Homo sapiens: one gene and its partners. The protein of the gene in region 2 purifies or fractionates together with the protein of the main gene of each other region. This does not show direct contact. Each region holds a gene or a part of one and is shown on either strand. Other genes may lie near its edges.

Evidence for each region.
Region 1: the proteins of ZNF346 (region 2) and OASL purify together in Homo sapiens (co-immunoprecipitation; 2 studies listed by BioGRID and IntAct, with this or other methods). This does not show direct contact.
Region 3: the proteins of ZNF346 (region 2) and ZNF768 purify together in Homo sapiens (co-immunoprecipitation; 2 studies listed by BioGRID and IntAct, with this or other methods). This does not show direct contact.
Region 4: the proteins of ZNF346 (region 2) and U2SURP purify together in Homo sapiens (co-immunoprecipitation; 2 studies listed by BioGRID and IntAct, with this or other methods). This does not show direct contact.
Region 5: the proteins of ZNF346 (region 2) and HP1BP3 purify together in Homo sapiens (affinity purification with mass spectrometry; 2 studies listed by BioGRID and IntAct, with this or other methods). This does not show direct contact.
Region 6: the proteins of ZNF346 (region 2) and GLYR1 purify together in Homo sapiens (co-immunoprecipitation; 2 studies listed by BioGRID and IntAct, with this or other methods). This does not show direct contact.
Region 7: the proteins of ZNF346 (region 2) and RBBP6 purify together in Homo sapiens (co-immunoprecipitation; 2 studies listed by BioGRID and IntAct, with this or other methods). This does not show direct contact.

Annotation. Positions count from the first base shown.
Region 1 is NC_000012.12:121,032,172-121,036,636, reverse strand, and holds part of OASL (2'-5'-oligoadenylate synthase-like protein), read left to right. Parts: intron 1-2,893; coding exon 2,894-3,176; intron 3,177-4,465.
Region 2 is NC_000005.10:177,039,161-177,043,625, forward strand, and holds part of ZNF346 (zinc finger protein 346), read left to right. Parts: intron 1-1,965; coding exon 1,966-2,069; intron 2,070-2,617; coding exon 2,618-2,710; intron 2,711-4,465.
Region 3 is NC_000016.10:30,523,150-30,528,146, reverse strand, and holds ZNF768 (zinc finger protein 768), read left to right. Parts: upstream 1-1,580; 5' UTR 1,581-1,733; coding exon 1,734-1,821; intron 1,822-2,095; coding exon 2,096-3,630; 3' UTR 3,631-4,143; downstream 4,144-4,997. UniProt on the Homo sapiens protein: Binds to mammalian-wide interspersed repeat (MIRs) sequences in euchromatin and promoter regions of genes at the consensus sequence 5'-GCTGTGTG-[N20]-CCTCTCTG-3', consisting of two anchor regions connected by a linker region; the linker region probably does not contribute to the binding specificity.
Region 4 is NC_000003.12:143,032,234-143,036,698, forward strand, and holds part of U2SURP (U2 snRNP-associated SURP motif-containing protein), read left to right. Parts: intron 1-550; coding exon 551-713; intron 714-1,037; coding exon 1,038-1,117; intron 1,118-2,654; coding exon 2,655-2,742; intron 2,743-3,748; coding exon 3,749-3,871; intron 3,872-4,465.
Region 5 is NC_000001.11:20,739,766-20,742,307, reverse strand, and holds the end of HP1BP3 (heterochromatin protein 1-binding protein 3), read left to right. Parts: 3' UTR 1-2,042; downstream 2,043-2,542. UniProt on the Homo sapiens protein: Component of heterochromatin that maintains heterochromatin integrity during G1/S progression and regulates the duration of G1 phase to critically influence cell proliferative capacity.
Region 6 is NC_000016.10:4,808,889-4,813,353, reverse strand, and holds part of GLYR1 (cytokine-like nuclear factor N-PAC), read left to right. Parts: intron 1-1,105; coding exon 1,106-1,268; intron 1,269-1,551; coding exon 1,552-1,731; intron 1,732-2,059; coding exon 2,060-2,184; intron 2,185-4,465. UniProt on the Homo sapiens protein: Cytokine-like nuclear factor with chromatin gene reader activity involved in chromatin modification and regulation of gene expression. Acts as a nucleosome-destabilizing factor that is recruited to genes during transcriptional activation.
Region 7 is NC_000016.10:24,556,075-24,560,539, forward strand, and holds part of RBBP6 (E3 ubiquitin-protein ligase RBBP6), read left to right. Parts: intron 1-233; coding exon 234-373; intron 374-3,430; coding exon 3,431-3,603; intron 3,604-4,465. UniProt on the Homo sapiens protein: E3 ubiquitin-protein ligase which promotes ubiquitination of YBX1, leading to its degradation by the proteasome.

The DNA of each region.
Region 1 (4,465 bases), on a different chromosome or scaffold from region 2:
AATCTTTGCATTTTTAGTAGAGACGGGGTTCCATCATGTTGGCCAGGCTGGTCTCGAACTCCTGACCTCAAGTGATCCACCCACCTCGGCCTCCCCAAATGCTGGGATTACAGGTGTGAACCACCACGCCCGGCCAAGAATGAGTTTTTACGGCAGGAAATGCTATTTACCTAAGCCTCAAATACTTCCTGCACATCATAGCCACTTTTCCTCTTGAAACCACTAAATGGTAGCAATCCCCAGTGAGCCATGACTAATGAGGAATAATATATCTTATTTAGAGTCTAAACCCTCCCGTTCCCCACCCTCTGAAAATCTAGTGAGCGGAGCTGGTCCACATAAGGGAATGCTCGTCTTCAAATGAATTGTGCTTAAATAGGTTTAAAACTGAAGCAAATCAGGAAGCCTGTTCTGGATGTGTTCTTTTCTCTCTGCCTGGATCTTACCAGTGGGAAAGGCAGAAAGGGAAGTCTACGCCAGGCACAGTGGCTCACGCCTGTAATCCCAGCACTTTGGGAGGCCAAGGTGGGAGGATTGCTTGAGCCCAGGAATTCGAGACCAGCCTGGGCAAAATGGTGAGACCCCCGACTCTACAAAAATATATATAAAAAATTAGCTGGGCATGGCGGTGCATGCCTGTAGTTCCAGCTACTCCGGAGGCTGAGGTGGGAGGATTGCTTAAGCCCAGGAGGTCGAGGCTTCAGTGAGTGAAGATCGTGCCATTGCACTCCAGCCTGGGCAACAGAGCAAGACCCTGTCTCAAAAAGAAAGGGAAGTCTAGACTGGCCTTCGGGGGGAATGTGTCCTTCATTCACACACAGGGTGCCATCTCCAACCCTCTCCCAGGGGGTGGAGGTGCTGGGTCTGAATGCCCATGGTCCCTTGGAAGCAGGGCCTGGCTCACAGCCTTGGGTCACGAGGAAGAAAGAGGCGGAAGAACCATCCCCTACTTGAGTTCTGGCTCTTTCTCTGACTCTGCTGCCTTCTGGCTGGGAGACCATGGCAAGCTCCTCACTGCCTCAGTCTTCTCATCTGTACATTGGAGATAATTCTCCTAGTACCCACCTCAATACAGGAAGTGAAGGCGTTTTTTTTTGTTGTTTTGTTTTGTTTAGATGGAGTCTCGCTGTGTCGCCCAGGCTGGAGTGTAGTGGCGAGATCTCAGCTCACCACAACCTCTGCCTCCTGGGTTCAAGCGATTCTCCTGCCTTAGCTTCCCCAGTAGCTCGGATTACAGGTGCACACAACCACACCTGGCTAATTTTTGTATTTTTAGTAGAGATGTGCTTTCACCATGTTGGCCAGGCTGATCTCGAACTCCTGACCTCATGATCCGCCCACCTTGGCCTCCCAAAGTGCTGAGATTACAGGCATGAGCCATCATGCCTGGCTGGGAAGTAAAGATTAAAAGGAATAATATGTATACAGGGCTCTTATGGGTGCCAGACACAGGGCGTGCTCATGTCATCCAGCATCCGTGCTCATGTCACACAGGGCATGTTATATCATCCGGCAACAGCTGGAATCTGATTCTTGTGCAGTGACTCCAACCACCAAGAAAAGTAGCCTTCTGGGGGTCTGATGCCTCCCTAGCAATTCCACCTCCCAACACAGAATGAGAAGGAGAGGAGGCCAGAGAGTTGTGGCGCTTTGCATACCAGAGGCACCAGGGCCTGGAGAGCTCATCTAGAATCTCAAAACATCGAAAAATCCCTTCTCGACCTCCTTCCATTACTAACAGGAAAACTGACCCCCCGGCAGCAGAAGAGATTGTCTAAGTCAGCTGGATAATGAGAAGAAAGAGAAATGTATTGCTGACTTCCTGTGTGCCAGGCACCCCACCAAACGCTTGGCATACATTATTTCATCTGATCCTCCCAGTAGCCCAGTGACTCTTGTTCCAACATTACTTTCATTTTACAGATGAGGGTCTCAGGAGTCAGAATGTTTACCCAGCTAAGAAACAGGGAAGAGTCAAGATCTTTTTCAGGCTGCTCCATTTCACAGCCTATGGCTCTTAAATCCACCAGGCAAACTTGCTCCTTGCTTTATAATGTCATGAAATTATTCAGCCCCACCACCACCCCCAGAATCCTCAAACAACCCTATGGAGTAGATGCTACCATTCCTCTGGAGTAGGCCTTACTCTGTGGGTAAGAAGACTGGGTCTCAGAAGCAATGCAGTGTAGTAGATAAGAAGCTGGGCATTTGGGGAGGCCAAGGGGGCAAATCGCTTGAGTCCAGGAGTTCGAGACCAGCCTGGGCGACATGCCAAAACCCAGTCACTACAAAAAATACAAAAATTAGCCAGGCATGGTGGCGCAGGCCTGTAGTCCTAGCTACTTGGGAGACTGAGGTGGGAGGATTGCTTGAGCCAAGATCATGCCACTGCAGCCCAGCCTGGGCAACGGGAGTGAAACCCTGTGTAAAAAAAAAAAAAGAGTCTGGGCTCTGAGGGCTGCAAACTGCGAGACCTGAGACAAATGACTAATGAGGAGAAAGACAAATGTGTTGCTGACTTCCTGTGTGCCAGGCACCCCACCAAACCCTTGGCATACATTATTTCATCTGATCCTCCCAGTAGCCCAGTGACTCATATTCTGCCATTGCTTTCATTTTAGAGATGAAGGTCTTAGGAGTCAGAACATTTACCTAGCTAAGAAACAGGGAAGTGTCAAGATCTTTTTCAGGCTGCCCCATTTCTCCATCCCATGTCTCGAGATCCTCCAGACATCTCAGTTTTCTCACCTGTAAAGTGTGGGTATTAGTACTACCCACAACCCATCCCTCAGCGGGTGGTGAGCATTCAGTGAGACAGTGCATGTGAAGTGCCGCAGGGGTTGCCTGGCTCATGGCAGTGGGCCTCAGGGTGACGGGGCTCTGTGTTCTGCAGGTGGGCTCCTTCGGGAATGGCACGGTTCTCAGGAGCACCAGAGAGGTGGAGCTGGTGGCGTTTCTGAGCTGTTTCCACAGCTTCCAGGAGGCAGCCAAGCATCACAAAGATGTTCTGAGGCTGATATGGAAAACCATGTGGCAAAGCCAGGACCTGCTGGACCTCGGGCTCGAGGACCTGAGGATGGAGCAGAGAGTCCCCGATGCTCTCGTCTTCACCATCCAGACCAGGGGGACTGCGGAGCCCATCACGGTCACCATTGTGCCTGCCTACAGAGCCCTGGGTAAGGGGAGGGGAAGCTCACCCGACTCACACACTTGCCCACCCCAGGAGACTTCCCAGTGTCTCACCTTTACTCATGGCCACGTGCACACACCCACATTTATTCATTTCATCTGTGTCCTATGCTTGGGGCTGGGTTATTGCAGTGCACAGGATTAACTCAACTCTGGCTATCATATTGCTCAACTTGGAATACAGAAATTGACCAAAGAATTGCAGAGATAAATACATGATTGCAGCCTGGGCGCGGTGGCTCACGCCTGTAATCCCAGCACTTTGGGAGGCCAAGGCAGGTGGATCATGAGGTCAGGAGTTGAAGACCAGCCTGGCCAAGATGGTGAAATACCATCTCTACTAAAAATACAAAAAATTAGCTGGGTGTGGTGGTGGGCGCCTGTAATCCCAGCTACTCAGGAGGGTGAGGCAGAGAATCACTTGAACCCAGGAGGCGGAGGTTGCAGTGAGTCAAGATCGCGCCATTGCACTCCAGCCTGGGCAACAGAGCAAGACTCCGTCTCAAAAAAACAAAAAACAAAAAAACAAACAAAAAAACATGATTGCAAATGGTGTAAATGCTCAGAGAAAAAGAATGGGGTGGCCTGGGTAACCACAGAAAGGGTGCTCAGGAAGTGACTTTCTGGGGAAACAACATTCAGGAGGCTCTGACACCCAGTGAGGGGAAGGAGCTAAAAGTGGGAGTGGGGGTCTGTCACTGCATTTTATAGAAGCAGATCCTAAGACATGGATGTGAGGATACGCAGTTTATTTGGGTATTCCTCCCAGGAAACACCGGTAGGGAAGTATGGAACTGAGATGGGAAAGGCAAGAATTCAATACAACGTGCGTCCATGGGCAAGTCACCACCCTGAGCTTCATGTCCTGGGAGAACTCACAGTCCCATTATGGAGCGAACCTCTTCGGGATCCCAAGTGGGACGCTGGCGTGCTTACTCACCAGCTTCCCAGCCGTCACTGGTTGGGGGCTGCTTTGGGAGCACTAACTCACTGGCCCCTGTTGTTTGTCCTCGGGCAGAGTCCTAGGTGTTTGAAGTAAAACCTACATGCTGCAAGCCCAGATCCTAGAGGTTTCATCTCATGTGCTAACTCCTATCAGCTGTAGTGGCTGGCTGCGTGGAGTTGCTCTTTGGAGAAGGTATAAGAGACAGGATCTGATTTTAGCAAGGAAGAGAGTGCTGGGATGTCTCAGTGATGTGTACCATGGAACTGGTTCCTGGTTCTCCCTATGAGTTTATATATATATATATTTTTTGAGACGGAGTCTCGCTCTGTC
Region 2 (4,465 bases):
GATTACAGGCATTACCAATCGTGCCTGGCCACCTCTGACCCTCTTTTAAAAGTTCTGGGCCAATTTTGTTTATAGAGTCATTTCTCTTGGTTTTTCAGAGCATAGCTAAGACAGGCAAGGTCTTTCACAAAAATTTACCATTTAAAAGAAAAATGCAGAAATAAAAAGAGATCATTAGGGGCAGAAATACAGCCCTTCTGCCTAAAAGGGCTGACATAGGTAAGCTTTAGATTTTGTGGATTAAGGAGAGACATCTTAAAAGCTCCCCACCAAGAACCTCTTCCAGGGCATCGACTTTTTTTTTTTTAAGACAGGGGCTTGCTCTGTTATCCAGGCTGGAGTACAGTGGCACTAACATGGCTTGCCATAGCCTTGACCTCCTGAGCTCAAGCAATCCTTCTGTCTCTGTCTCAGCCTTAGCCTCCCATGAAGCTGGAACCACAGGCATGTGCCACCACCCCCGGCTAGTTTTTGGTTTGTTGGTGTGTTTGTTTCTATGTAGAGACAGAGTCTCACCATCTTGCCCAGGCTGGTCTCAAACTCCTGGGCTCAACCCATCCTCCCACCTCAGCCTCCCAAAATGCTGGGATTACAGGTGTGAGCCACTGTGCCTAGCCTTGACCACTTTTTGGCTGAGACCAGGAGATTAAAAATGTGGGCCTGCCCTCCTCTCCCAGTTTTAGACTCTGCCTCTGCCTCTGCCTCACATTGCCAGCGCCATGATAGAACTCATGCCTTGGCCGGGCGCGGTGGCTCACGCCTGTAATCCCAGCACTTTGGAAGGCCAAGGTGGGTGGATCACGAGGTCAGGAGATCGAGACCATCCTGGCTAACACGATGAAACCCCGTCTCTACTAAAAATACAAAAAAATTAGTTGGGCGTGGTGGTGGGTGCCTGTAATCCCAACTACTCGGGAGGCTGAGGCAGGAGAATGGTGTGAACTTGGGAGGCGGAGCTTGCAGTGAGCCGACATCATGCCACTGCACTCCAGCCTGGGTGACAGAGCGAGACTCCCTCTCAAAAAAAAAAAAAACAAACAAAAATGAACTTATGCCTTGGGAGAGATTTTACCTCCTCTTCTCTTCTCAAAAAGGTAAGACTGTTCTCCAGGCACAATAATTTAAGCACAGGTTAATACCATGTTTCATATAGTGTGGCACTTATATAATACGTTATGTGATTTTATTTTATTTATTTATTTAGAGACAGAGTCTAGCTCTGTCACCCAAGTTGGAGTTAGTGGCACAACCTCAGCTCACTACAACCTCTGCCTCCTGGGTTCAAACAATTCTCCTGCCTCAGCCTCCCGAGTAGCTGGGATTATAGGTGCCTGCCACCACACCTGGCTAATTTTTGTATTTTTAGTAGAGACAGGGTTTCACCATGTTGGCCAGGCTGGTCTCGAACTCCTGATCTCAGGTGATCTGCCCACCTCGGCCTCCCAAAGTGCTAGGATTACAGGCGTGAGCCACCACGCCCCACCCTGTTATGTGATTTTAAATGTTTCAAAGTCAGATCAAGAACAATGAGAAAAGTATTCCTTTTTCGAGTCTTTCAGTCCTCCTGATTCTATCTGGGAAGAAGTTTCAGTTGGGTGCTACCATATCTTAAAACCTCTCAGCACAGTTGCTGTTCTCTTCTTCCTGGGGAATGCTCCAAGCCTCATTTTTATCATATTTATTTTTATTGGTATCTGCTTAAGTTTATGATCTAAAGATTCCTTTTTAAAAGAAGTTCCTAAGTAAAGAAAGTTGGCATACATAAAATTATAAAATAAGTAATAGTGTAGGTGGTGTGAGAACACAGCATGAGTCACGGTGGCAGTAGGAAAGGCTGGCTGAGGTCTGCCAGTGTCCTAGTATGGCATCCCATCATTCAGTGCCTGTGTTTGAGGCAGGGTTCAAAGGCAGTGCTGTTGAGGTAGTGTTTGTCAACTCAATGATTTCTTGTTTTCCCCTCTATAGTGGAGCACATGATCCAGAAGAACCAATGTCTCTTCACCAACACCCAGTGTAAGGTTTGCTGCGCCTTGCTTATTTCTGAGTCCCAGAAGCTGGCACATTACCAGGTATGCCATCATACTTTTAGAACTGCGTTTCTTTTCAGACCTGGTGCCAAACCACTAATTCTCTCTGGCTTGCATGGTGAAGTGTAATTGCTGCTTAGCCACCCAGATGTTGCCTCCATGCATGTTGGCTTGTGACTTGAAGATTGACTTAATCTCCTTGAGTCTCATCTCCCCCATCCAAATCAGGATCATTATATGTGTATCTTCCCTTGCAGCTTGGCATAGCATAAAGTATGAGCTTTGGCTTTAAATAGATCTGACTTTAAATCAAAACTCTGCTACTCATCTTGAGCAAGAAACTTCATCATTTTTAGATGTAGTTTCCTCATCCATAAAATAGAAATGGTCATAATTTTCTCATAGATTGTGAAGATTAAATTTGGTAGCTGTAAAATGCCTTGCACAGAGCAGGAACTCAAACTTCCCTCACCTCCTCCTCAAAACTTTTTGTGAGGATGAATCAGATGAAAATCTCATAAGTGTTTTTGAGTGCCTTAAGTATGAAGTAGCATTTGGCTATCTTTGATCTTTCTCCTGGGTTTTTGCAGAGCAAAAAACATGCCAACAAAGTGAAGAGATACCTAGCAATCCATGGAATGGAGACATTAAAGGGGGAAACGAAGAAGCTAGACTCAGATCAGGTAATACAGCTGCCATATTGAGCCCACTTGCTTCATGATGAAGCCAGCCAGCAGGTTGGTGTGGTGAACAAGTCAGACTGTCTTGGCTTCAAATCCTGGCCCTGTTGTGTGACTCGGGCAAGTCTATTACTTCACAAAGCCTTGATTTCTTCCTCTATAAAAATGAGGATGGTAATATCAACTACCTTTCAGGATTTTTTAGAACTAAAATTGAGGGCAGATTTATAAAAAGCACCCAATTCAGAGCCTGGCACATAGTAGGGACTCAGTAATGGAGCTGGTATTACATATTACCGCCTAGTGGTTTGTTAGAGCAAGACAAGAGAAAATGGAAAGAAGCCAGGCTGCTTGCTTTCTTGAGGGCCAAGGAAAAGAACTAAGTTCAGCACTTGAATGTTTTGCATAAATAAGCAGAAGGAACACCTTTCCAAATGTCTGCTGTGATTGAGAGGTGATCACATGTGCTTTTTGGCTCAGAAATAATATGAGCATTATGCTGAAGCAACCCCCAATCCCTCAGGAGTACCATCTCATCATGGGAAGAGAAGTTAAGCAGACTAGGGCTCAAAGCTGGCTGTGTGTCTTACTGATCGGGTGAGTTTGGCCAAGTCACTTAACCTCTGTGAACTTCCCCCATAAAGTAGAGATAATGCCTACTTCTTAAGGGTATTGTGAGGTAAAATTTCAATTCCTAGTAGATGCTCAATAAATAAGAGTTTACTCTATAGACTGCTACCTCCTATTATAGTAGCCACAGGTCAGGAAGGTCCTTGTTTATCTCTTCTCAAAATTTACTGGACTCATCCCCTGGTTTCCCTTATTATTTATTTATTTATCCCTGGTTTCCCTCCTTTCTATTTCTCTATCTGTCTATTTGTGAGACAGGACCTGGCTCTGTTACCCAGGCTGGAGTGCAGTGGTGCAGTCACGGCTCACTGCAGCCTCAACCTCCCAAGCTCAAGTGATCCTCCCACTTCAACCTCCCAAGTAGCTAGGACTACAGGCACACACCACCACGCCTGGCTAACTGGAGTGCAGTGGCACGATCTCAGCTCACTGCAACCTCCACCTCCTGGGTTCAGGCGATTCCCCTGCCTCAGCCTCTGAAGTAGCTGGGACTACAGGCACGCGCCACCACACCCAGCTAATTTTTGTATTTTTAGTAGAGATAGGGTTTCACCAGGTTGGCCAGGCTGGTCTCAAACCTCTGATCTCAAGTGATCTGCCTGCCTCAGCCTCCCAAAGTGCTGGGATTACAAGTGTGAGCCACTGCGCCCAGCCGCCTGGCTGATTTTTTAAAAAATTTTTCGTAGAGACAGGGTCTCGCTTTGTTGCCCAGGCTGGTCTCAAATTCCTGGTCTCAAGTGATCCTCCCACCTCAGGCTCCCAAAGTACCAGGATTACAGGTATGAGCCACCACACCTGGCCCTTTTCTCACAATTTATAATTCAGAAAGGCAAGATAAACTCTATGACCCTGGGCAAGTTATTTTACATATTTGCACCCTATTCAGAGATCAGGCTTTCTGAGAGAGATGCTGGGATCCCTTTATGTAGTCTTGAAATACATGGTTTCCTAGCCTAATCATAATCAACAAGTAGAACGCAATGGGAGGCTGGGTGCGGTGGCTCATACCTGTAATCCTAGCAATTTAGGTGGCTGAGGCAGGCGGATTGCTTGAGCTTGGGAATTCGAGACCACCCTAGGCAATATGGTGAAACCCCGTCTCTATAAAAAATACAAAAATTAGCCGGG
Region 3 (4,997 bases), on a different chromosome or scaffold from region 2:
TTGTCTGGGTAGGCGACAAGAAAACACGATCCATGGCTCCTGCTCACACAGGGGCATCGGGCTCGTTAACTGTCAAGAACGCTGCCAAACTTGTTTCAGCACGAAGCGTAGAAAAAAAAGACAAGAACTGGATGATATTAAGTTGTCTGTCCAGGCTCACTTCCTCAATTCAAAGCTGCGCCCGAGGCAGTGTTTCTCAGGTTCCCTTCCTCTGCAAGACTCCATTCGAGTCAGACAAGACTGGAGAGTTGTTAGATGCCTCGAAGGCCAGATGGTTCTCTCAGTCCAATTCTCCTTTGTATCACCCTCACCTGGAAGGAATCCTGCCTCCCTGTGAGGAAATCTAACAACAGGGACTAAGGCTGCCAGGGATTGAGTTAAACTCAGGCGCTGGGGAAGGTGGAGGGGAGAGGCAAGGGGTGTGAGGCTGACGAGGAGGAAGGGTGTCTGTCCTCAGATCTTCTGGCTTTCATAAAACATAATGGAGGCTAAGTGGGGGCGGGAAAAGTTTTGATGGCACAGGCCGGGCTGGAGGGGAGATGCCTGGCACCTCCCTCCCACTACCTCCTGAAGGCGCTTCTGGCCGACAGGGGAGGCGGACCCGACCACAGCACTCCCGGCCAATCAGGAAGGCGCCTGGCGTTCCCTGGCGACCATTAACGCCCAGCCGTCCGCGGGGTTGGAGGAGGCGGGGCGGCTAGAGCACGAGCCCCATCGGCCAACCGCCGGGCTTCCTGGGGCGGAGAAGCTGTGCCTCTGGGAGCCGGGGCGGGGCTGTCTCCTTGGCAACTATCCTAGCCCTCGAGGAGGGAGGAGGGAGGAGGAGGATCAGGGGAGCCGAGCTGGGTGGGGGCCGGAGGAACGGGAGCGGGCGCGCGCAGGTGCCGGGGAGCGGAGTTCCTGGAGGGGGTCCCAGGCTCAAGGACCTCGGCGAGGCCAAGGGGAGTCCGTCCCGGTTCCCGAGGCGCTGCCGGAGCTGACCCGGAGGCCCGGGAGGGGAGGGAGCGAGACACCGCCCCCGCTGGCGCCGGGAAGCGTCGCTCCTTCTCGCTGACCTTGGTCTCGCTTGTCGCCTCGCCCTTGGCCACACGCACCGACGACGCGGGGCCCGGGAGATGGACAGACGGGCCTCTGGAGGGACGGAGACCTAGAACATAGGCACACACACTGCCCCGGTAGCCCCGCGGGCTCCGGGGCGTCCGGTCCTCACCCACCCCGTGGCCGGGCCCCTCCAGCCCAGGGTTAATGCCAACGAGTTTCCACCTCCAGCGGCTCCTAGAGAGGCCGCGGCGCGAGCCGGCGGGGGGACCTGGCCGCGGACGGACACTTCCTGTGCGGGGGAGGGTGGGGGGGTGCTGGGCGGCCGTTGGACAGTGCAGCCCAGCCCGGGGCCGGGGTCCAGAAGGTGGGGGCTCGGGCGGGAGCGGGGGCCGGGGGCCGCCGGGGTAGTCGCGAAGCCCCTCATCCCCGAGGCCGCGACGCGCGGGGGCCAGTGAGGGCCACGGGGAGGCCGAGACCTTGGGAGGGGGCGGGGCCGCGGGCAGGGGAGGGGCCCGGCGCGCTGGAGAGGCGCGGGGTCAAGACGTCCGGCCTCGGGGGCCCGGGCTGGGCCGCCGAGTCCCCTGGGCGGCGCTGAGCGGGCGGGAGGCGGGGGCCCGCGGCTCGGGGCAACCGAGGCCGGGTCGCGGGATCGGCCGCCATCGCCGCCGCCGCTGCACTGGGAGCCCGCGGGGATGGAGCGGGAGGCGTTGCCGTGGGGCCTCGAGCCCCAGGATGTGCAGAGTTCTGACGAAATGAGGAGCCCCGAAGGGTACCTCAGAGGTGAGGAGGGAGCGCCCGTCCGAGGAGTGGACTTGCGCGCAGGAGAAGGGGCTGTGGCTCCAGGGAGGGAGCGAGGGCCCGGGGCTGGGACACCTGGGACTCGAAGGAGGGGCCGGCGGGGACTGGGGTGTCTTGGGTCAGCTGAGGGGGGCGTGGGAATTTCAGCACTTGTCTAGGGGCCAGCGACCCTGCATGTGAGGTGGGAGGTGTGTGGTTGCTAATGGACCAAATGACCTTCCAGGTCTCACACGATCTGGATTCTCTCATCCTGCAGGCAACATGAGTGAGAATGAGGAAGAGGAAATTTCTCAGCAAGAAGGCAGTGGGGACTATGAAGTCGAAGAGATACCATTTGGGCTTGAACCCCAGAGCCCTGGGTTTGAGCCACAAAGCCCAGAGTTTGAACCCCAAAGCCCCAGATTTGAGCCTGAAAGCCCGGGGTTTGAGTCCCGAAGCCCTGGGCTTGTGCCCCCAAGCCCTGAGTTTGCACCCAGAAGCCCTGAATCAGATTCTCAGAGCCCTGAGTTTGAATCCCAGAGCCCTAGGTATGAACCCCAAAGCCCTGGCTATGAACCTCGGAGCCCCGGGTATGAACCCCGGAGCCCTGGCTATGAATCTGAGAGCTCTAGATATGAATCCCAGAACACTGAGCTCAAAACCCAAAGCCCAGAATTTGAAGCTCAAAGTTCCAAATTCCAGGAAGGTGCGGAGATGCTTCTGAACCCCGAGGAAAAGAGTCCTTTGAATATCTCCGTAGGAGTTCACCCCCTGGACTCCTTCACTCAGGGGTTTGGGGAGCAGCCCACAGGGGACCTGCCCATAGGGCCACCTTTTGAGATGCCCACAGGGGCCCTGCTGTCTACACCGCAGTTTGAGATGCTTCAGAATCCCCTGGGTCTCACAGGAGCCCTTCGAGGTCCAGGTCGGCGGGGTGGCCGGGCCAGGGGTGGGCAGGGCCCTCGGCCTAACATCTGTGGCATCTGCGGGAAGAGCTTCGGGCGGGGCTCCACCCTGATCCAGCACCAGCGCATCCACACCGGTGAGAAGCCCTACAAATGTGAGGTCTGCAGCAAGGCCTTCTCCCAGAGCTCTGACCTCATCAAACACCAGCGCACCCACACTGGCGAGCGGCCCTACAAATGTCCCCGTTGCGGCAAGGCCTTCGCCGACAGCTCTTACCTGCTTCGCCACCAGCGCACTCACTCTGGCCAGAAGCCCTACAAGTGCCCACATTGTGGCAAGGCCTTCGGCGACAGCTCCTACCTCCTGCGACACCAGCGCACCCACAGCCACGAGCGGCCCTACAGCTGCACCGAGTGCGGCAAGTGCTATAGCCAGAACTCGTCCCTGCGCAGCCATCAGAGGGTGCACACCGGTCAGAGGCCCTTCAGCTGTGGCATCTGCGGCAAGAGCTTCTCCCAGCGGTCGGCCCTTATCCCCCATGCCCGCAGCCACGCCCGGGAGAAGCCCTTCAAGTGCCCTGAGTGCGGCAAGCGCTTTGGCCAGAGCTCGGTGCTGGCCATCCACGCCCGCACCCACCTGCCAGGCCGCACCTACAGCTGCCCCGACTGCGGCAAGACCTTCAATCGCTCCTCCACTCTCATCCAGCACCAGCGCTCCCACACGGGCGAGCGGCCCTACAGGTGCGCCGTGTGCGGCAAGGGCTTCTGCCGCTCCTCCACGCTTCTGCAGCATCACCGGGTCCACAGTGGCGAGCGGCCTTACAAGTGCGATGACTGCGGAAAGGCCTTCTCCCAGAGCTCCGACCTCATCCGCCACCAGCGGACCCACGCGGCGGGCCGGCGCTGACCTGGGGCCCCAGCAGGGGTGGGAGGTGTGGGCAGAAGATAAGGGGCCAGGGAGCTAGAGGAACCTTTAGGGAGGATAGTGGAGAAGCCGCAGGAGAATGGAGGAGCTGAGGATGCTGGAAGAAGAGAACCAGGGTGGAGGAAGTGACATGCCCTGGAGACTTGTGGGAAGTGGGTTGGAGGGAGGCCAGGCCGGCAGCGGGAGGCCCTGGGAGAAATGGAGAGAGGTCAGCGGAGGGCTGGCCTCAGCCGCGGCTCCTTGGTGGGTGCCTGGCTTGGCAACTGCTAGAGCAGGGAGGGGGGAGGGCAGGGGATTACCTAATTAGAGTGGGTTAGCTTAGATTGGTAGCTGCTGAAACTCTCGTTGAGTCAGGAGCGGGTAAAAGGTAGGTGGGGTGGGGAGTGGGGCCCCGGGGTGGGGCCTGGGCCTCTGCGTGCAAACCCCAGCCTCCCTCTTCTTCCTCAGGCTTTGGAGCCCCTGAGTTTGAGTTCAATAAAAACTTTATGTGGTAAACGAGACTTGTCCTTAAAATGTGTGCGTGCACAGCGCCCTGGGAAGTGGGAGACACCAGTAGTAGCCTAGGGCCTTATCCGGGAAGTGCTTTGCTGTTGCTGCTGTTAGAAAGCGGGTCTTGCTGTGTTGCAGCAGGCCACCGCACCTGGCTGGAAGTGCTATTTGTTTCTTTTTTTTTTTTTCTTTTTTTTGAGACGGAGTCTTACGCTGTCACCCAGGCTGGAGTGCAATGGTGTGGTCTCGACTCACCGCAACCTCTGCCTCCTGGGTTCAAGTGATTCTCCTGCCTCAGCCTCCCAAGTATCTGGGATTACAGGCGCCCGACACCACACCTGGCTAATTTTCACCATGTTGGCCAGGCTGGTCTCGAACTCCTGACCTCACGTGATCTGCCTGCCTCAGCCTCCCAGAGTGCTGGGATTAGAGGTGTGAGCCACTGCGCCTGGCCTGTTTTTCTTTTTTTTTAATTTTGAAGGCAGTATCTTGCTCTGTGGCCCAGGCTGGATTGCAGTGATGCGACCATCGCTCACTGCAGCCTTGACCTCCTGTGCTCACGTGATCCTTCTGTCTCAGCCTCCTGAGTAGCTGGGACTACAGGTACGTGCAACCAGGCTCAAATAAGTTTTTATATTTTAATTTTTTGTAGAGACAGGGTTTGCTATGTTGCCCAGGTTGGTCTCAAACTCCTGGCCTCAAAGGATCCTCCTGCCTTGGGTTTCCAAAGTGCTGAGAATACAGTTGTGAGCCACAGAGCCCAGCCAGAAATGTTCACTTGAGTAGGGCTGCAATATTGCACCAGCACAAAACCACCACAAAACTGGACAGAATTTCACATTTATTGGATAAATACATGC
Region 4 (4,465 bases), on a different chromosome or scaffold from region 2:
GGCTAATTTTTATATTTTTAGTACAGACAGGGTTTCACCATGTTGGCCAGGATGGTCTTGATCTCTTGACCTTGTGATCCGCCTACCTTGGCCTCCCAGAGTGCTGGGATTACAGGCATGAGCCACCGCACCCAGCCAGTCTTTTCCTTTACAGAAAAAATTAGCCTGTCGTAATCCCAGGCAGAAGTGTTAAAGTAATAGACTTCCTTCAAAGAAGGGGAGTAAAGAACATGAAAGTTCTTCAGTATCATGGGATGGTAAGACTGGGGTGCTCTTAAAGACGCTTGAAGAAATGCGTATGATTTTAAATTTACTTAATTTGTAAGCTGAAAACATAATTGGAATCTTATTCTACAGAGTATTCTTATATAAATTCTTCAAAAAATTGTAACAATTTTGGGGGACACAACACAAATCAGACTGAATGTATTACAGTCTTCAGAATTATTTTATGTGAGTAGGTTTTAAAGAAATTAGTTTGTGAGCAAAAGCTACAATGGCATTTGAAATTGTATCTAAATATTTATAAGTTAAAACAATTTATGTTCAGACAGAGGGATAAATTGGAAGAAATCTTGCGGGGATTAACTCCAAGGAAAAATGATATTGGAGATGCAATGGTTTTCTGTCTTAATAATGCTGAAGCTGCTGAAGAAATAGTGGATTGCATTACTGAGTCGTTGTCCATCTTAAAGACACCCCTTCCTAAAAAGGTATGGGAATGAATTTTAAGAAAAGGGGAGATAGTTGACGTCTTTTGGGATTAGAATTGGTTTCCTTTTTGCACAAAGCACTTGACTGATGAGATTTTTCCCATGCAGTCTTATGTTATTTCTGCTTGGAAATTTAGGTTCATTAACATACAAGTTAACAAACAAGTTGAAATGTAAATGGGTTAACAAATTTCATCTCTGCCAGAGTCATAGTTGTGGTGATACTGAGCTTCATATAACTCTTCTAATTAGTAGCCATAATTAAATTATAGCTAAACATTAGCCTTATATTAACCTATTTTGTGTTATCTTTTGATATTATAGATTGCCAGATTATATTTGGTTTCTGATGTTTTGTACAACTCTTCAGCCAAAGTTGCTAATGCTTCATATTATAGAAAATTGTAAGTATAATGATATAACTGATATTCCTGAAATAAAGTATTTAAGGGTAAGGAGTTCAGAAAAGAGGATTGTTTTGTTAACATCCTGCAAGAATAAGAAGTACAGTCAGCCCTCCATGTCTGTGGGTTCCTTATCCATGAATTCAACCAACCATGAATTGAAAATATTTGAGAAGAAAAATTGTATCTGTACCGAACCTGTACAGACTTTTTTCCTTGTCATTTTCTAAACAATATAGTATGAAAACTCTACATAGCATTTACATTGTATTAGGTATTGTAAGTAACCTAGAGATGATTTAACAGATGGGAGGATGAGGATAGGTTACAGGTGAATATTATGCCATTTTCAATCAGGAACTTGAGCATCTGTGGATTTTGGTGTCCATGGGAGGTCTTGGAACCAGTCCCCCCATGGATACTGAGGGAAGACTAATTTGAATTTCTTAATGGTTTGTAGAATTTTTTAAAAAATTGGCTTACACTTAAGCTAAATTACCAATTTTTTGGAAAGATTTTATATCATATCACTTTCTTAGCTATTGACAGTATAACAAATAGGTGTTAAAGAGAACTTTATTGCATATCTAGCTATTCATATAATAAATAGAAACAGTGTATATACTGGCAAACATAAGAGACCAAAGACATACTATTAACTATAGAATCTGTGTTCTCTTCTGATCCTCAGCATATTGATTTTAGTTCATTGTAAATGTTTCCTAAGGCAAAAGGAAGTTACGTTGCTGTATTATAATTAATGTATAATTCAGCTGGGCACAGTGGCTCACGCCTGTAATCTCAGCACTTTGGGAGGCCAAGAAGGGCTGATTACCTGAGGTCAGAAGTTCGAGACCACCCTGGCCAACGTGGTGAAACCCCATCTCTAGTAAAAATACAAAGATTAGCTGGGCGTGGTGGTGTGCCTCTGTAATCCCAGCTACTCGGGAAGCTGAGGCAGGAGAATCGCTTGAACCCGGGAGGCGGAGGTTGCAGTGAGCCGAGATGGCACCATTGTCCTCTAGCTTGGGTGACGAGCAAAACTCCATCTCAAAAAAAAAAAAGTATAACTTTTCCTCTGTTCCCCAGAGCTCTCTTTCTGTGTTTATTTTATGAATTAGGCAAAGGGAAGCTTTTCCCTAGGATGTTGCTCTGAAAAGAAATTTAGAGAGCTGGATCCTACTCTTAGGTCTGCTATTAGTTTTTTTGCCTTGGACGAGTCACTTTTCTAAGTTTTCTGTTTTATAAAATAAAGAAATTGGACGAGATGGTTCAGCATATCCTAGATATAACGTTTCTTGCTCGTAAAGGGAACTAGTAGGGACTGTTGGGGAGTTTGTAGGAGAAAAATTCAGAGTAATAAGAGTTCAAGCAATTCAGTTACGGTTTTAGAGTTTAAACACCTAGTTTTTGATTTTTAATAATTTCTTGATTTGTAAGTATTTTAAGTTCAGGAGGGGTTTTCATTGGCTGGCATGCTAAAAGGGAAAGGAATTTTAAACATTTTATTTTAAAGAATGTGTTATTTGAATTTCAGTTTTGAAACAAAGTTATGTCAGATATTTTCAGACCTCAATGCCACCTATCGTACAATTCAAGGCCATTTACAATCTGAAAACTTTAAGGTACGTTTATTGTTTTACTATTTTTGCCCTAGTGTTTTAAATGGGTGGGGGGAGGGCATTGAAGGGCTAGAAAAGTGCATAAGACAAGTATGAGACATAAATTTAAAACTTAGATGTTACAGAAGTTACTGTTTTAAAATTCTGTCGTTTTTGTTTTTATCAAATCAAAAATTTAAAAGATACTATTTTGTCAGGTTTAATTTTAGTTTTAAATATTGTTTAAAAATTATAAATGTTAGTCTTTTTTCATAAAACATACAGAAGAATCACTTGTTTTGTAATGGTATATACTATTTGGCTGGATTAAAGACATACATTTTAATCATGTTTAGAAAGTCTATTCTGTTACCAATTTTTTTATAACCTCTTAAGCTCTAGACCAGTGTTAAGAAAAGCCAAGTGTAGTACTTCACTTATAATTGAATAAGTAAATATGCTTTCATGGGAAGAAGACTTTTTTAAGAAAAATTTTTAGTTTCGGAAGATGCCCAGTGACGCCACCATTTAGGGCATTCAGACAACTCCCATTTTAAAAGTTTTTGACCTTAAATTTTGACCATAAGTTAGAATTTAAAGACAAGTTTCAGGAAGATACAGAGTAAAGTATTAGCCAGAATTAGGAAGTACTTTATTGGACCATAAGGGATTCAGGTCAAAACTTGGCTACTTTGGTTTCCAGTTTTAGTAAGTTTCTATGTAAGTGTTTCTGGAATGTGGCTCATGGGTAGTACTAATGGTATGGGAGCTGACCTTAGGTGGTAAAGAGCAAATAGTTACTGTTTATTTTTCATTATATTTATTTTTAGGGGTTTTTTTCCTTTTAATTAGAAGGTGACATTGATTTTTTTAAAAAATATGGTAATGATATATAGTTATTTTCTTTAAAGTTTAAAAAAACATCAGTTTAAAGGCAAATTTAGCAAATCTTGATGATCATTCTCATGAACTGAAATTTGAGACATATAGCCCAAAATAAAAGTTTGTTGTCTGTTTCCTGTTTCTTTAGCAACGGGTAATGACTTGCTTCAGAGCATGGGAAGATTGGGCAATTTATCCAGAACCATTTTTGATCAAACTACAAAATATTTTCTTAGGACTTGTAAATATTATTGAAGAAAAGGAAACAGAGGTAGGCAGTCTGTATTTGTCTGGTTGTTTTTAAAATTCGTTTCTGGGGTGGAGGTTTCTTGGAGTTGTTCTGTGTTACATATGTGAGGTACATTTCTTTGTGAAAAATATCTATTGCTTACCATTAAGTAGTGGATTTTTATTGCTGGAACCCAGAAGTCAAAATTACATGTAACAGGAATTCTCTGTCTTGTGTCCTTATGTGAAAATTGGTGAGTGTTTTTTTTATTTAATGATATAAGAGTTATGATATATTGTTAATAGTAGAAAATAAGCAAGTAATAGAGCAATATGTATAGCATGACTTTATTTTGTTAAAGATAGCTATATAAGTAAAATATGTGCATGAAAAGATGCATCACATGATAGCAGATATACATCACCATTCTGTTGTTTTTTTTCTTTTTTACCTCCTAAATAATTACTGAATCCTTAATGTTTAATTCTGCCATGCTAGTCAAGCTATTATGTTTTCACTTTCACTCCTGCAGGATCTTCCTAATTGGCCTTACTGTTGCAACCCACGTGGTCCTTGTTTCAGTTTCTTAAATGTGTGTTTCCACCTACCATTGGACTTTGTACATGTCCTTCCCTC
Region 5 (2,542 bases), on a different chromosome or scaffold from region 2:
AAGTAATTGTAGTAATTACTCCTGTGCTCTCTAGCAAGTAATGATTCTTAATAGTATGGATGTTAGGTACCTGTGCTCAGAATTCTGTACTCTTCTGGAATCAAAAGTTGGGAGATTTTGGTTGGTTTCTTTGCTTTATGATACTGCTTTTAAAGAGACTTACTGAATAATCACCTGGTGGCTGTATTGCACACCAGGCACTTAAGCACAGGCTGAGAAGTTTAGATCATTTAAAGTTTCTTCCAACTCTAACGTTCTGTTAACTATAAGGACAGTTTGTTTCAGTGTGATGTAAAGGGAAAAGACAGGAAGGTCATCGCACTCTTCCACGAACATCCACAACTGTCAAAGACATACGCCTTACTTACATTGAGATAAAAGAATGTTTGATTTTTCCCTTCCAGGCATTCCAAAGGAGCAGAACACATTTATAATTTTTACTTCCATGTTCAGAAAGGGGAACAACAAACCCCAGAGGTAATCCCAGAAATCTCTAGCATGGATCAATAGCTTCAGTACTCTGTTGGTGGCTTAGTGACCTCATTTACAGTGTTTCATACACTCTGAAACTACCTACAAGCTACCTTTGATAAATGAGTCTCAGAAAGTGCTGGGAGAGAGATTGTTGGCTTCTTAACCTACAAAATGAGGAAGGAAAGATACTATTGTTGAGAAATGTGGAGACCTTTCCTTAGCACTATGACAGAAGCATTCATTGCACATGGATTCTGACTATGCATCCACATGGACTTAATTAAAGGAAACCTGGTCCTGTATAAATCTTAGGAAACAGGTGTATGTTTTAATCATGTCTTTTGGGTATAATTAACAGGAAAATGACATGAAAACAAAACTAAACAATCTGCTAACACCTTTTGACATTTGTTTTTTCATCATTGCTGTTTTTCCAAATTTTGTTAGCCCTTGTCAAGGTTTGCTAACCAATTCTTAATTAATACTTACTTTAAAGAGCCTGTGAAATTATTCTCTCTCAGGCTGTGACCCTCTTGCCATCTTGATACGTCATGAGAACGAAACTCACCAGCCATGTTCATTAAATACTGCATTTAACTAAGAGAAACTTTAAAAATTTGGGATTATAGTTAAGGTCTCCTATCTTTGGAACCTGATTAATTTATCTTTCTTTGGATTAAGCAAAAATTCTAATTTTAGCTATGAAAGAAAAGAAATTCTATTCTTAATTGGAAAAGACCATTAAACTGTTTCCCCAGAGGTTCTGGTTGACATTACTTTCTAGCATGTAGATTTTGCTTTTGCATTTTCATGGTGGAACAGATGGTCACTCACTTCTGCAGAGCCAAAGCCAAGGAAGCAGAACTGTTGAAGTTTTGGCTTAGGAACCACTTGACAAAGATTTGTTTAGAAGCCATTACAGATGGTTAAACAGTACCCCTAATCAGCTGCATTATTTTCTTAAGAAATTAATCTCTACCGTCTTTATAACTATATTCTTTTACTTATTATTTTTTTGAGATGGAGTTTGCTGTGTCACTAAGGCTGCAGCGCAGTGGTGTGATCTTGGCTCACTGCAGCTTTGAACTCGTGTGCTCAAGCAGTTCTCCCCACCTCAGCCTCCCAAGTAGCCAGGACTACAGGCAAGCTAATAAATGCCTGGCTAATTTATCTTTTCTAGAGATGGGGCCTCACTGTGTTGCCCAGGCTGGTCTTGAACTCGTGGCCTCACGTGATCTTCCCACCTGGGCTTTCCAAAGTGCCAGGATTACAGGCGTGAGTCGCCATACCTGGCCCTATTCTTTCTTCTGTTCTTTTCCACAAGACTGTTAACTTCAGTGGCTTTTTTCCTGTTGGAAAACTTTCTACCTTTGATGATTTAATTTTATCAGCTTTTTAACTGTTTTAACTGTTCTTAATTCTGTCTTGTCAACCACTGGTATGTCAAAGGAGGCCTCAAAAGGCTGAAGCGATTTTCCTCAAAAATTACAACTCTTTTTTTTCCTGATATTGTATATAATGTATAATTAACACTGTTCACTATTAAATCTTTGCTTAGCAAAAGAGAACTCTGTGGTGCCTAGAGTATGTCTCATAAAGTATAGTTGTAAGTTTGGCTTATTAATGTAAGTAGTAATAGTCATAACGATTAACACTAGCTGAGCTTCTTCCACATCGGGCTCTGTACAGATACTATTTTTATTTTATTTTTGAGATGGAGTCTCACTCTTTCACCCAGGCTGGAGTGAAGTGGTGTAATCTTGGCTCACTGCAGCCCCCGCCTCCCGGGTTCAAGCAACCCTCCTGCCTCAGCCTCCCGAGTAGCTGGGACTACAGGCATGTGCCACCACGCCCAGCTAATTTTTGTATTTTTAGTAGAGACAGGGTTTCACCAGGTTGGCCAGGCATATTACGAATTCCTGACCTCAGTTGATCTCCTGCCTTGGCCTCACAAAGTGTTGGAATTACAGGTGTGAGCCACTGTGCCCAGCCAAGCACATGTTTAAGAGAGCAGAGGGCTTGGAAATGAAATTATTGCCAACTTTGCCAATAGTCAAGTCAGTGTGGC
Region 6 (4,465 bases), on a different chromosome or scaffold from region 2:
GGAGGGCAGCATCCACAGGGGAGGTGTGTGTTCAGCCGAGCCATTGACATGGTCACATCTGGTTCTAGTTGTTGGTCTCTAAGAAATTCCAGTCCGGGCGCGGTGGCTCACGCCTGTAATCCCAGCACTTTGGGAGGCCGAGGTGGGCGGATCACGAGGTCAGGAGATCGAGACCATCCTGGCTAACACGGTGAAACCCCATCTCTACTAAAAATACAAAAAAATTAGCCGGACGCGGTGGCGGGCACCTGTAGTCCCAGCTACTTGGGAGGCTGAGGCAGGAGAGCGGCATGAACCCAGGAGGCGGAGCTTGCAGTGAGCTGTGATCGTGCCACTGCACTCCAGCCTGGGCAACAGAGCAAGACTCCGTCTCAAAAAAAAAAAAAAAAATTAGCCAGGCATGGTGGCGGTTGCCTGTAGTCCCAGCTACTGAGGAGGCTGATGCAGGAGAATGGCATGAACCCGGGAGGCAGAGTTTGCAGTGAGCTGAGATTGCGCCACTGCACTCCAGCCTGGGCAACAGAGCAAGACTCTGTCTCAAAAAAACAAAACAAAAAAATTCCGGCCAGGCGTGGTGGCTCACTCCTGTAATCCAAGCACTTTGGGAGGCCGAGGCGGGCGGATCACAAGGTCAGGAGATCAAGACAATCCTGGCTAATATGGTGAAACCTGTCTCTACTAAAAATACAAAAAATTAGCCAGGCGTGGTGGTGGACGCCTGTAGTCCCAGTTACTCGGGAGGCTGAGGCAGGAGAATGGCATGAACCCGCGAGGCGGAGCTTGCAGTGATCCGAGATCGCTCCACTGCACTCCAGCCTGGGCGACAGCGAGACTCCACCTCAAAAAAAAAAAAAAAATTCCAAGTCAGTTGGGTTCCTGTGTGGAGACCCCAGCGTCTCATCACTGCTGTGATTCGGCCTGTGTGACCTGCACATGGTTAGCTCCTGAGTTTAGGTGTCAGCTAAAGGACCTTGGTATGGGTGGCCGTCCCCTCCAGCTCTGGAAGGTGATGAGCAGCCGTGGCCACTCAGCAACACTCCTTGAGTCCTGCCCAGAGAGCGCTGGGAGAGGGGAGGCCTCCAGAAGCTGTGACTTTTCTTTCCAGGTGATTGTGTCCAGGGGGGGGCGCTTTCTGGAAGCCCCCGTCTCAGGGAATCAGCAGCTGTCTAATGACGGGATGTTGGTGATCTTAGCGGCTGGAGACAGGGGCTTATATGAGGACTGCAGCAGCTGCTTCCAGGCGATGGGGAAGACCTCCTTCTTCCTAGGTAACACGCCTGCACCTGTCAGGCCTGGAGCCTGGGGCCACATCTCCTCTGTTTCACACTGATGACAGCGTCAGTCCCACACGGCCTTTCTGCCGGGGACCCTGGGGAAGGTTTCCTTTCACCTGCATAGTCAGTGCGTGGAAGGAGGAAGAGCCAGTCTGTCGGGGGCAGGTGAAGGGGGCCTCCCCTGGAGAGAGGTGGGTCTGAGCAGAGGTGAGGGTGGACAGAGAAGCCCTGTCTGTGGCATTCTTGGGCTGTGACCGTGAGTCTTTACCCTGGGCAGGTGAAGTGGGCAATGCAGCCAAGATGATGCTGATCGTGAACATGGTCCAAGGGAGCTTCATGGCCACTATTGCCGAGGGGCTGACCCTGGCCCAGGTGACAGGCCAGTCCCAGCAGACACTCTTGGACATCCTCAATCAGGGACAGTTGGCCAGCATCTTCCTGGACCAGAAGTGCCAAAGTGAGTTGTTTTTGGCCCCTCTTCTTGCATTTGGTGTTTGATTAGAGCAGGGTACTAGGTCAGGGATTTAGTGAGCGTGAAAGATGCCCCTCCCCAGTCAGTCCCTGACCCTGGCCAGAGGAGGTTCAGAAACACAGTGGGCGGGATTTGGGGATATAGGCTGGGAGCTGCAGCCCTCAGGTGTCTAAGGGTGAGTGAGGAGCCAAGAGGCCTAGGCTATGTGGAACTGAGCCCTGAGTATGTTTTAGGTACTGACACCTGGTGGACCGTAAGTAGTTTTTAGTTTCAGGTCCTTGGCTTTTGTCTGATACTGGCTTTTTCTCCTCAGATATCCTGCAAGGAAACTTTAAGCCTGATTTCTACCTGAAATACATTCAGAAGGATCTCCGCTTAGCCATTGCGCTGGGTGATGCGGTCAACCATCCGACTCCCATGGCAGCTGCAGCAAATGAGGTAGGGTAGATGTGGCCCAAGCCCCAAGGCCCTTCAGTTTCTTTTTCTTTCTTTTTTTTTTTTTTTTAACGGAGTCTCACTCTGTCACCCAGGCTAGAGTGCACTGGTGCGATCTCAGCTCAATGCAACCTCCGCCTCCTGGTTTCAAGCAATTCTCCTGCCTCAGCCTCCTGAGTAGTTGGGATTATAGGTGCCCACCACCATGCCTAGCTAATTTTTGTATTTTTAGCAGAGATGGGGTTTCTCCTTGTTGTTCAGGCTGGTCTCGAACTCCTGACCTCAGGTGATCCACCCGCCTCTGCCTCCCAGAGTGCTGGGATTACAGGCATGAGCTACCACGCCCAGCCATTCAGTTTCTTTTTCTTTTTCTTTTTCTTTTATTTTGAGACAGAGTCTTGCTCTGTCGCCTCAGGCTCTTGCCACCACGCCCGGCTAATTTTTTTTTTTTTTTTTTTTTTTTTTTTTTTTTTAGTAGAGACAGGGTTTCACCATGTTAGCCAGGATGGTCTCGATCTCCTGACCTCGTGATCTGCCCGCCTCGGCCTCCCAAAGTGCTGGGATTACAGGTGTGAGCCACTACACCTGGCCAAGTTTCTTTTTCTTTTATCGTTTCCTTCCCTCTACTTAGTTTAGCTTTTCTTTGTTCTTTTTCTTTTTTTTGAGACAGAGTCTCACTCTGTCGCCCAGGCTGGAGTGCAGTGGTGTGATCTCAGCTCACTGCAGCCTCTGCCTCCTGGGTTCAATAGATTTTTGTGCCTCTGCCTCCCAAGTAGCCTCCCAAGTAGCCTGGGATTACAGGCGTGCCCCAACCCGCCCTGCTAATTTTTGTATTTTTAGTAGAGATGGGGTTTTGCCATGTTGGCTAGGCTGTTCTCCAACTCCTGACCTCAGGAGAGCCACCTGCCTCAGCCTCTCAAAGTGCTGGGATTACAGGTGTGAGCCACTGTGTCTGGCCTCTTTGTTCTTTTTCAAACCCTTTAAAGTGGAATCTTAAATCATTTATTTTAATCCTGCTTTCTTTATAACATGAGTATATAAATCTTTAAATGTCCACTAATCCGTGTTAATTTGTTTTCTGATTTCTTCTTTGATCCATGAATTACTTAAAAGTTTATCTAGTGTTTGGGTTTTCCTAGATATCTAATGATTATTGATTTTTAACTTACTGCTCTATGATCAAAGAACATGCCCTGCCCTGTATTGGGTTTTTTTTGTTTTTTTGTTTTTTGTTTTTTTGTTTTTTTTGGAGACAGAGTTTTGCTCTTTCGCCCAGGCTGGAGTGCAGTGTCGCGATCTCGGCTCACCGCAACCTCTGCCTCCCAAGTTCAAGCGATTCTCATGCCTCAGCCTCTTGAGTAGCTGGGATTACAGGCACACACCACCATACACAACTGATTTTTGTATTTTTAGTAGAGATGAGGTTTCACCATGTTGGCCAGGCTGGGCTTGAACTGCTGACCTCAGGTGATCCGTCCACCTCAGCCTCCCAAAGTGCTGGGATGACAGGCATGAACCACCACAACCAGCTGCCTGTATGATTTTTTTTTTTTTTTTTTTTGAGACGGAGTTTCGCTCTGTCACCCAAGCTGGAGTACAGTGGCACGATCTCGGCTCACTGCAAGCTTCGTCTCCCGGGTTCACTCCATTCTCCTGCCTCACCCTCCTGAGTAGCTGGGACTGCAGGCGCCTGCCACCATGCCTGGCTAATTTTTTGTATTTTTAGTAAAGACGGGGTTCCACTGTGTTAGCCAGGATGGTCTCATTCTCCTGACCAAGATGTTGAAACCCCTATCTCTACTAAAAATACAAAAAATTAGCTGGGCATGGTGGCAGGCACCTTTAATCTCAGCTACTCAGGAGGCTGAGGCAGAGAATTGCTTGAACCTGGGAGGCGGGAGGTTGCAGTGAGCCTAGATCGCACCACTGCACTCCAGCCTGGGCAACAGAGTGAGACTCCATCGCAAAAAAAAAAAAAAAAAAACGAAAGCTGCTACAGCCTTCTCAGGCTTATTGTTTTCATGGTATGTATATTTTTCCATCCATTTCCTCTCTTATTTATGTCTAAATTATGGCTTTGATAGACAGTATGTAATTGGGGTTTGGATTTTTATCCATTTTGACAGTATCTGCCTTTTAATTAGCATGTCTATTAGCATTTTTCAAATGATGTTTTAAGCACTTAACACGTGCACTTTTTTTATATTTGAGACACAGTCTCACTCTCTTGCCCAGGTAAAGTGCAGTGGCACAATTATAGCTCACTGCAGCCTTGACTTCCTAG
Region 7 (4,465 bases), on a different chromosome or scaffold from region 2:
TGGCACTTGGCTGAGTTTGGGCAAGTTACTTGATCTCTATAAGCCTGTTTTTTCTTCTCTAAAATGGAGATAAAATAGTACGTACTTCACATAGCAGTTACAAGGATTAAATGAGATCACATATGTAAAGCACTACAAGTAATATAGTAAGCACTGTATAACATTAGCTAATTTATTAAATAAAGATAACTGCTTTTTCTCTTCCTCCTCCTCTTCCTTTTTCCTCTGAATAGGATAAAAACTTTGAATCTGGTCCTAGGATTAAAAAGAGCACTGGAATTCCCAGAAGTTTCATGATGGAAGTGAAAGATCCTAATATGAAAGGTGCAATGCTTACCAACACTGGAAAATATGCAATACCAACTATAGATGCGTAAGTATGCAAATTAGGTATGACCTGTGGAGACTCCAGTCAGTCCCAGGGTATAGTGTTTTAATCTTGGGCTTGTAACTTTGCTACTTGGATTCCTTGAGAACTTTGTATACCAAAGCCATTAGTCTCTACATCTTGCATTTCTGTGAGGCTGCAGTCTGCTCCATTTAAAGCAAATTTAAAATGGATTTGGGGATTTTTTGTTACCAGTGAGTGCCACTTCCCTTGTAGTCTTCTAATTTTTTCTTTTTCTGTCATTCCCTGCTTTCTTCCTCATTCACATACATACTCCCACATAATCTTATTATATATGCTACTTGCATTTTTAAGTGAACAAAACAGATTGTAATCATTTTGAGAAACAGGAGGCTTAAGAATAAAAGCTCTGCATGATGTTGAGGCAAATTTAAGTGTCAGGCATAAATGAAATACTGAAGTAGCTTGAATAAGTTTGGATATGCCATGTGAGTCTTAAGATTCTCAAGTAAGGTTTATTTTATAAACCACTAGTTCAGATCAACTATAGCTCTATAAAACACCTTAATGCCTTTTTTTTTTTTTTTTTTTTTGAGACCAAGTCTCGCTCTGTCCCTTAGGCTGAAGTGCAGTGGCACAATCTCGGCTAACTGCAAGCTCCACCTCCCAGGTTCACACCATTTTCCTGCCTCAGCCTCCTGAGTAGCTGGGACTACAGGCGCCCGCCACCACGCCCGGCTAATTTTTTGTATTTTTTTAGTAGAGACGGAGTTTCACCGTGTTAGCCTGACCTTGTGCTCCACCCGCCTCGGCCTCTCAAAGTGCTGGGATTACAGGCATGAGCCACCACGTCTGGCCCTTAATGCCCATTTTTAATGTGTATTCAGATTTTATATTATGAACCAGTTTTTAATGAAATGGACAGACATGAAAATTCAGTGGCAGGGTTCAACTAGATAACCTCCCATTTTATCTGCTTTTATTAATGTAGTCAGTTACTTTTTTGATTACCTTCAACAGTTGTGATCTCACATACTATACAGCATAATATTAAGTGTTCTTTGGACTGCTGTTCTCTAACTTTGTTGAGCATAAGAATTTCCTACAAAAGTATGTTAAAAGGCTGGCCAGGTAGAGGGACCTTGGGCAAAAAAAAAAAAGATCCTGGTTGCTCCGCCCCCAATTTTGATTTAGAAGTTATGTGATAAGACCCTGATTCTACATTTTTAACAGGTTGTCCAAGAGATTGTGAAGTTAGGGGATCCTCAGGGCATCAATTTACAGAATTAGGTGTTCATGTTCTCAGTGAAAAAATACATACATATATAAGAACAGTTCCTCAGCTTCATGCTATAAATATTGTTGAAGTGTAGTGTAGTGAGCAGGTGGGGATGATGATGAAAATAGCTATGCCATAGAATGATATTGAAAAGATCTTGTGTTTTTGAATATGTACTTCAGCAAATAGTGTTTTCGTTCACAGATAAGAATGTTTTCCTAAACTCCCAACCCTGCTCACTTCCTCAACTTCACCCCCATCTATTTTTTATCAGTCACCATCCTGTGTTTTTGTGGTTCATCATTGAACAGTCTGTTGTTATGCTGTTTCTAATTCAGAGACATTTCATAGATGTTTCCAAATAACTTTAGCTTGAAATTGATTATTTTTACAGACACAATTAAGAGCAGACCGCTTCATCTATATTATGTAAAATTTTTAAGTAAAAATTTGTGTTGGAAAAATTAGTATCACCTGTAAACCCTAACTAATAATTAACTTCATTGCTTTTGAATGCTGAAATACAAATGCCCAATTGTGCCAGACACACAGCAAATACTGGGGAAAGATGGGAATCTAAATATTTTAAATGAAACTTTCACCCTCTTCACTAACACCACTGATAAGCAACTCAGACTCTTCTTCTGTTTCTTTTTCTATCCTCTGTTCTCCTCTTTTTTTCTTTTTTTTTTTTTTCTTTTTTCTCTCTTTTGGGCAGTGGGAGACTCCTCTTTCACAAATTGGGAACAATGGGGCATAAGCAAATTGATACTTATTTCTGGAATCGTGGTGATGTCTATGGAGCAACTGCAACACAAATAACACACCTAAGGTACCCTACTCTGTACAGCCGAGATTCTTTCATTTTCAGCATTGAGATAAACACACTCTGTTCCTGAATGAAATAGAAAGGGTTTCTCTAGGGATTCCTGTGTTTTGCAAATTTGCCTGATTACAGAGAAGATGGGGGTGTAGAAGCAGTGGTGACAAGTCTGAGAATAGCTATTTTTATTTTTTAATACTATATTTAATGCCCAACATTTCTGCAAAATGCATTTCTACAAAAAACTGGACCTAGAATGTCTAATGAGGTGTTACTTTACATTTTTGTAACACCGATTTTGATCATTTAAGTCACTAATGCTTCTTAATTGACTATAAATTGATTAACCTCTCTTAAAATACTAATAAGTAGATCATGGGTTTTGGTATCTCATTTTATTAATTATTTGTGTGGTAATGACATAATATTTCCCTTGAACTATCTTTCCTTAATTGTATAATGTCAGTACTAATTTTAATTTCCCGTCTTGTGGCATTTACTCCAATACCTTCACAGGTTTGAGAGACTTTTGGGTTATGGAGAAGGGGAGATTTTTTGGGATTTTTAATTTTAATTTTCATTTTTATTTTTTTCAAGAAACTTGATAGAGTAGGAAAAATTGTGATTATGGTGTTGTCTAAATTCAAGTCTTGTCTTTGTCACTTAAATAGAACTTTATGGCACAGAACATTTCGCTTTATTTCTGGCCCTCAGTTCTTAAGAGTGACGGGTTCTAAGATCCTTTTATTGTTTTTGTAGCATTTCTTTGCTTCTTTTTGTTATGCTTGTTTAGACTTTTGTGTCTTTGTTTAGGGTTAGGTTGTACATAATTACTCCCTTATTTTAGAAGATATGGTGCTTGTCTAAACTAATTTGGCATTGCGCTGAATTATGTGTTCCCATTATGTTATAGTAGAACATGTAGCATGAGTACTCTGCCTTCTTAACAATGGTAAAACATGAAAACTTTCTTTTACAGAGAAGCATATGCAATTGGGAAGAAAGAGAAACCTCCCTTCTTACCAGAGGAGCCATCTTCTTCCTCAGAAGAAGATGATCCTATCCCAGATGAATTGTTGTGTCTCATCTGCAAGGATATTATGACTGATGCTGTTGTGATTCCCTGCTGTGGAAACAGTTACTGTGATGAATGTAAGAAGTGCTGAATCTTGGAAGATGTATATTTTAGAATATTTGTATTTACTTGGAATGGCTCTTCCCAACCTCATATGTTTTAATAATAAAATAAATAATGTTGATGACAAGTGTTGATCAATGAGCATTAAGTAGTGAGAAGTCTGTTTTTCTTGCTGTATCTTTTTTAAACAATAACCTGTTTGTCCTTTTAAATTCTAGAATTGACTTCTGTACCTTCATCAGGGTGACTATACTGAGGTGTTTTTCTTAATATAGACTTTTTGTTTCCTGTATGTTTTAAGTGGTATCCAGAATTTTAAAACTTTTTTGGGCCTTAGATAATTCTGGAAATATTTTTAAGTGGTATCTAAATCTTTTTCCTGGATTGTGAATAGCTTATCCTAATATTTCTAAGTGTATTAACACCTGATTCCTGTAGACAGTTTTTGTTTTTTTTTTTTTTTTTTGAGACAGAGTCTCACTGTCTCCCAGGCTGGAGTGCAGTGGTGTAATCTCGGCTCACTGCATCCTCTGCCTTCTGGCTTCACACAATTCTGCCTCAGCCTCCCAAGTAGCTGGGACTGCAGGTGCCCGCCACCACACCCGGCTAATGTTTTGTATTTTTAGTAGAGACGGGGTTTCACTGTGTTAGCCAGGATGGTCTCGATCTCCTGACCTCGTGATCCGCCCACCTCGGCCTCCCCAAGTGCTGGGATTACAGGCGTGAGCCACCGCGCCCGACATCTGTAGACATATTTATTACCCAGCATTTACCATGCAGTTGTGACTTTTTAAATCACTTATATTAGCACTTAGTTGTTTCCTGCCACTTATCCTAAGTTTGTGCCTTCTTACACAGAAGAAATCAGTGTTACCT